Linked DNA regions of Homo sapiens. The protein of the gene in region 2 interacts with the protein of the main gene of each other region in a pairwise test. Each region holds a gene or a part of one and is shown on either strand. Other genes may lie near its edges.

What was found.
Region 1: the proteins of FSAF1 (region 2) and RBM33 interact in a two-hybrid assay, tested with the Homo sapiens proteins (one large-scale study listed by BioGRID).

Annotation. Positions count from the first base shown.
Region 1 is NC_000007.14:155,741,950-155,745,660, reverse strand, and holds part of RBM33 (RNA-binding protein 33), read right to left. Parts: coding exon 3,555-3,711; intron 701-3,554; coding exon 59-700; intron 1-58. UniProt on the Homo sapiens protein: RNA reader protein, which recognizes and binds specific RNAs, thereby regulating RNA metabolic processes, such as mRNA export, mRNA stability and/or translation.
Region 2 is NC_000001.11:231,234,533-231,238,313, reverse strand, and holds part of FSAF1 (40S small subunit processome assembly factor 1), read left to right. Parts: intron 1-3,781.

The sequences.
Region 1 (3,711 bases), on a different chromosome or scaffold from region 2:
AGGACATTCTATGTGATACACAGACTCAAAGAGGCTCTCATAAAACTTGTCAACTTACCCCACCTGACAGCTTAATCACCCTGACCTTGGAGCTGATGTGGGGCCCGTCTCCACCACCACTGTTTGTCCTGTGCGTGACAGTCCTTTTCACGCCAGGCTTTGTGTCCTGGGGCCGGCCCTGGATGGACGCCACTCGAGGAGTCTGGGGGACAGCTGGCTCCTCCACATCTGCAGGTTTGATCGGGAGCACTTTATGCAGCGGCTGAGTCTGACTTTGAGGAACTGTTCTGGTCTGTCTCAAATGTTTCAGTGCTTTCATCTGTTGTCCTTGATACTGCATGTTGGCACTGGATGGTACAAAATTGGATGTTTTGGGCTGAACGTTTGAAATACTGACATCCTGGTTTTTAACAAGAAGTCTGTTCTTCACATTTTGTCTGACCTGTGCACCTGGAAAGGGCAACAGTGGGTTACCGTTGGTGGGTGATGGTGACAGTGCCTGCTCTTCCTGCTCTGCTGGGGGTGGGGGAGCGTACAGCTGCTGCTGTTGCTGCGCGAGTCTCTCCAGCAGCTCCTTCTTCCTGGCACCAGCCTGCTGCTGCCGCCGTAACTCCTTCTGTTTCAGGATTTCTTCTCTTAGGCGTTTCTGTTCTTCTATCTTTAAGCGATATAACCTTGTTTCCTCATCTTCATCAGGAAACTAAAATGGAAAACATACACGGTTTACTTTGCTATACAGGCAAGGTGCCCATAGTCTATTTCAACAAATTACAAGAACACATTTACCACAAGTCCTTTAATTCAGTATCTGAAAGAAGTCACTCAAAATCTGTTTGAAGACTTTAAGTATAACTCCTTCCTCTGGGGAGGGGGAAAAAAACCACACAGCTAAAGCTAATTTGGAAAATCTTATCAGAATATTAAAAATGAAATAATGTAAATTTCCACTCATTTACAAGTTTGAAACCAATTAAACTATTCATTTAAGATATCAAAATATGTTTCAAACAGGAATGGCAGCAGTAGGGAGGCCTGCTGTCACACAGGTTTTATCTGGCTCTTCTCTGACAAACCAACAAAAGGTGGGGTGTAAATGACCTGAAAGGCTCTGATTAGAACTATTGATTTTTCGTGCAGAATTTTCAGCCTGATCTCAAACTCATTTGTCACAGAATAATTGGTTATAATGAACAGCACAAGTCAATCTCTCTGACCTTGAACTCATGCACTCTCCTCAGAATCAAAATGTTGCCGATTGCAGTATTGGAATATTAATGGTATATAAGGAACGCCTTTAATATTCCAAGTTCCAAACCATTCTTCAAGTCGATACAAAAAAATCTTTGAAAAACTCCAGTAACTTTCAATAAAAAGCATCCAATAGGGAAAATGTATAAAAAGTTAAGCATTTTTAAAGAATTGTAATAATATTCTTTAAAAATCATCCATATCCACAGACTCCGTGTAAAATAATGTAACAGGATTTAATCTATCTAGAATTCAGCTATTTCACCATCTTACTTTCCCTAAATAAACCTTAAGAATTAGGAACTTAAGACAAAAGCACAGCTGAGGAGTCGGCTGGTGCCCTGGAGCTTGAGTGCCCGGTGCCAGCCCTCACTCAGGGATTACTTGTCGTCCTGGAAGCAATTCCGACCACCTCTGTTCTCTAATATCACATCTAGGGCAGATTTCAAACTGCAAAAATGAAGGTGGGTGAGAGGCTGTTTACAAGGGTAGGCATACAGAGCAAGACATGGCGTCCAGGGGGATAGTGGGCACAAGGGACATGGGCATCGGGGAAGCAGACGGCTGGGGACATATTCACAGGACCCAAGGGGCCACTGCCTCAAAACACAGGAATAATTACTAGTCATCGGAATTTCCCATGCAGTCAAGGAAGAGTTAAAGCATGTTCAGAACAGCAGCTGAAATACTTGAAAAGACCTCCAAATAAGCAGATTCACCCTTTATTATATCATCATCAAGAGGGGTGAACATACGAAAATAAGTCACATTTAGCTAAGCAAAACAAATAGAAGATCTTTCTTCTAAAAAGTAAAAAAATATATATAATCCTGGTCCCCTTTATATAGAGAGAGAAAATTAAAAGAAAATAAATCAAGACATTCCATTTATACTACGGTGACCTACAGGTTCCATTTCACTCAAGGCATCTTTTTGAAATAACTCCATGGAAGAATCCTTTAGAAGTTCGCCTAAATCAACTATCATGGAAGGAAGTGATCGCCAGATGTGCCAGCAGGATGCCTGAAAGGCAACTTCCCCTATTAGGTAGCCCTGTTATTATGAATGTGTGACTTCATTTTTCTGAACCAAATCAGTTACACATACTGAGTTAGGAGCTGGCTATATACACTAGAAGTATGATAAAACTTTTACCAAAGACTTCTTTCTAAACTATTCCGATCCAGTTTGTAAATCTACATTATTTTTTCACATATTGATTTTAAAACCAAAAGTCACTCGTGTTCTAATAAGAGTTCATTGTATGTTAATATTTCAACTTTGTACTTCCAATTTGGTAAACAATACATTACAACTGCTACAATAATATATCAGAAGAAAATCTAACTGAAAAAAATGAACTGATTAAAAGGTAAAACCAGTGTTGACTGGTTTTTATGAAACTAAGAAAGCATGACTTGCCTAAATTCTTCTCTAAAGCCATTCTTCATGACATTGCTATTGGACAAGTTAACTCGCTGCACTGCTTCAGAGCACTCCACATGCATTTCACTAAGGCTGACACGCCCTCCAGGTGCCAGCCTTCTGCACAGGCCGCCCTGGCCGACCCTCCTTTACCAGATGAGGAGACTGAGGCTTGTGGGAGAAGACGGCCTCAACTAAAGCCAGGTAAAGACTGAGCTGCATTGATTGTTCACACTCACTACATTCTGTGCCTACTGAAAAATTAGGAACAACAGCAACAACATATATCATCATACTTCAACACAAAGCAAACCCCCAGAAATCTTAAAAGACCAACAAGAAAATTGGTCCTATCTTCTAGAGGTTAATAGTGTAAATCAAGAAAAGTCACAGAAACCTACGGGATTCACCAGGTGTCAGCACATGACACCCCACAGGCTGAGTCCGGTCCACCACCTGGTTTTATAAAGTAAAGTTTTACCGGAACGCAGTCACATCTATTCATGGAAGAACTATATTTAAATTGCCTTTGTGCTAAAATGGCGGAGAAGGGTAATTATGACAGTCTGGACTATAAAGTCTAAAATATTTATAAAATATTTGGGCCCTTTACAGAAAAAGTTTGTTAAGCCCCGGTATATATCAATTCTGTATAACAGAACAGTAACTGTACAAATATATAAACTCTAATCTTGTAAACTAGTGAGAATACAAGTGTTTTTTTAATAAACATGGCTGTTAGGTTAAAAAAAAAAAAAGACCCAGGTGAAAAAAGTGGGAAGATTTTGTGAATAACTTAGTGAGAGTGAACTAAGACATCCAAGTTGATTCTAAGGCTTCTTGTTTGAGACCAACATTTGTTAATAAGAGCAGTGTCCTACCTCTGTTTCTGTTTTTGCCTCTTCTTTAGGTTGAGCCACAGGGCTAGCTGGCTTGACTTTCACTTCCGTCTTTCCCTGTGAGCTTCTGGAACCCGCCACGGCCCGCGAGGGTGGTGACGCGCTGACGATAGGTTTCACTTGTGCTGAGGGCGTGGCA
Region 2 (3,781 bases):
GCTGGTGGAAAAGCAATTTGATTTTTCTGAGCAGTAATCTTTTTCAGAGTGAGCTTGTAAATCTCACCTAAAATTCAGTCCCCAAGGGAGGTGTGGTTGCTCCTCCAAATGTTTTTAATTTTTTTTTTTTTTGAGACGGAGTCTCGTTCTGTTGCCCAGGCTGGAGTGCAGTGGCACGATCTTAGCTCATTGCAAGCTCCACCTCCCAGGTTCATGCCATTCTTCTGCCTCAGCCTCCCAAGTAACTGGGACTACAGGTGCCTGCCACCACGCCTGGCTAGTTTTTTGTATTTTTAGTAGAGTCAGGGTTTCACCATGTTAGCCAGGATGGTCTTGATCTCCCGACCTCGTGATCTGCCCGCCTTGGCTTCCCCAAATGCTGGGACTACAGGCGTGAGCCACTGCGCCTGGCCCCAAATGTTTTTAATTTATCTATTCACAAGAATATCATAATGGCTTTGACAAATTCATTGCTATTCCATTTCTGTAACATCCCCCACGTCCTGCAAACCTTTGTCTATCAACAAAGAAGTGAGGATTGAACGTATTAGTTTCTAAGCCTGCTATAACAAATTACCACAAACATGGTGACTTAAACCAACAGAAATGTATTCTCTTACAGTTCCGTAGTCCAGAAGTCCAAAATCAAAGTGTTGGCAGGGCCATGCTCCCTCTGAGGGCTTTGGGGGAGAATCCTTTGCCTCTGACCAGAAGGTAGCTCTAACAGTTTCCTTGGCTTGTGGTTGCATAACTATAATCTCTGCCTCCGTCTTAATGTGGTTTTCATCCCTGTGTCCCTGAGTCTCATGTTTCCCTCTGCCTTCCTCTTTGCTTTAGGCCCACCCTGAATCTGGGATGATCTCCTTTTGAGATGTTTAATTATAAAGATCCCTCTCCAAGTAAGATCACATTCACAGGTTCTGAAGAGGAGTAGGACATGGCCATATGTTTTTAGAGGCCACAATTCTACCCACTACGAAGATGGTTTGGCTTGCATTGTTCTTTATGAATGTATAAATGTATGTTAGTGTCCAGTGTTTGCCACATCTTTATGGTTTTAAAAACCATCTGTATAATCTTTTCTAAAATTCAGGTAGCATTTCATATCAAGCTTGCTGGCATCTCTTCCTCAAAGATCGTTAGCGCATTCTGCAGGCTGAGCGTGGTGGCTCACGCCAGTAATCCGAGCACTTTGGGATGCCAAGGCCAGAGGATTGCTTGACTTCAGGAAGTCGAGACTGCAGTGGGCTGTGATTGTGTCACTGCACTCCAGCGGGGGTGACAGAGCGAGACCCTTTCTCCAAAAAAAAAAAAAAAGATTATTAGTGAATCTGTAACCATGTCTACCTTTATTTTAGGATTCTAGATAAGCTTCTTAACTCTTATGTTCCAAATATAAGGCTCTGGGAACTGTTACGGGAGGGTCAAGAAATGGATTCCCTTGGTGTTTGGGGCAACCAGAGCCCCGAAGCTGGCCATCTCCCAGTACCCCAGTGTACCCTACAAATACTGGTATTTTCTGTATGTGTCATGATATGAAAAATGTTGGTGAGCACTGCTTTGCAATATAATTCAGCATTTGAAGACTTCAACTAACATAAAGCATTTAGGCACCCTTTCTTGTTTCTTCAAATGTCTCAGACTTCAGTTTCCTCTTATATTCCCTCATGTTCTTTTTTCTGGAATGGAAAGTTTTCTTTTTAATAGAAAAGACAGAAGAGTTGGGATTGAATGAGTCTGCATTTCCCTGTTGCTTAATAATAGAACATCTGTGGCAGTCTGTCAAATTGTCTTTTGCTTCCCGTTCCAAGCGAGCCCTGATGCATTCTAGTTGGCTCTTCTCAGGAGCCTCAGCTCACTCTACGTTTTGAACTTCCTGACCTTAATGAAAATTTTCATTTGTCATTGCTGCTCTCTGCCCTTTCCTCTTGTTTTTTTTTTAAATGTGTCCTTTGAAAATGTGAGTGTGTCTGGTTAAGGAAACAGAATGTGGACACATTAAAAACACATACACCTGTAAAATGACCTCAGAATGTTGACATTGCGGTGTGGAAATAAATACACATGAATATAATGCTAGTTCTTATGGCATATCCTGGGTATGCCAAGTTAAAGGGTAGTCAGCCAACTGGTGCTAATTGGAATACACCAGCTGTGCTGAGTTTGTGTAACATGGGAAAGTATAGTTGTGCCCTTGTTCTCTAAAAACTTCTAAGCCATTGTAGGACAGTTAAACAGACATGGGTGGCAAAAATATATGATGGGTAATGGTAATCTCCATGACCAATCATAGCATCAGCTGGTCATTTTTAGAGAATGCTTGAGAAAGGAAGAAGGGGATGGTGAGTTGGACAACAATCCAGCTGGCCCTGCCTAGACCCAGGAAATTACCCTATTTTTCCAGAACTTGTGCTATAAATTCTATGATTAAGCTGCATCGTGCATTGAAGCAGGTTTTCATGGGGTCATCTCGGAACTTGGCCACCATTTATATATATTTTTTTATGTTTAGAGACAGGGTGTCACTCTGTCACTCCTGCTGGAATGCAGTGGTGTGATCATAGCTCACTGCAGCCTCCAATTCCTGGGCCCAAGCCATCCTCCTGCCTCAGCCTCCCAAGTAGCTAAGACTATAGGGCACACCACTATGCCTGGCTCATTTTAAAATTTTTTGTAGAGTTGGGGTCTTGTTTTGTTGCCCAGGCTTGGTCTTGAACCACTGATCTCAAGAAGTCCTTTTGCCGCAGCCTCCCAAAGCACTGGGATTACAGGTGTGAGAGCCACTGTGCCCAGCCATCATGTCCCTTTTTTTTTTTTTGAGATGGAGTCTTGCCCTGTCACCAGGCTGGAGTGCAGTGGCCTGATCTCAGCTCACTACAACCTCCGCCTCCCGGGTTCAAGCGATTCTCCTCCCTCAGCCTCCTGAGTAGCTGGGACTACAGGTGCACACAACCATGCCCAGCTAACTTTTGTATTTTTAGTAGAGATGGGGTTTCACCATGTTGGCCAGGATGGTCTCGATCTTGACCTCGTGATCTGCCCTCCTTGGCCTCCCAAAGTGCTAGGATTACAGACGTGAGCCACTGCGTCCGGCCCATGTCCCATTTTTAATGTAGTGACTATACAAGTAATTTGGCTGGAAATAGTATGGGATCACATATTCATTCCTCCATTTATTCCACCAATCACTGGGTGCCTGCTGTCTGCAGACCTTGCAGATGGAGCAGTGAAGAAGATAATAGTGCTTTGCCTTTATGGAGTATACTGTACAATCTACTTTGGAGTTGAGCAATATAATTAGAAAGAATTATAAACAAATAGGGTCCTGGAGTACCATGCAGAACCTGGTCTAGATGTAGTGGTCAGGGAGGTCTCTCAGGAGGTAACATTCAGGCTAATGCTGTATTAAATGGTGCTGGTGAATGGGGCAGGGAAGAGTGAGCCAAGGAGGGAGAAAACAGCCTTGCTAACATTGTGGGGTATGAAGAGGCCTGGTGTGTTCAAGGAGCTGGAAGAAGTCTAGCAAGACTAGGACAGAAGGGAGAATGGTTGGTGCTAATACAAGAGAGACAGGCTGAGACCAGCCCTTGCCAGGTCTCATAGGCAGTAGTGAGCCTTGGGACTTTAGTCTTAAGTACATGAGAAGCCACCAAAGAATTTCATGCAAGGGCATGAGGTAATCTGATTTAAATTTTAAAACGATCACTGTAGCTCCTATGTGGTGAATCGATTATAAGGGAGCAATAGCAAGAGGCATGAGGAGACTGATGTAGGGGTTTGT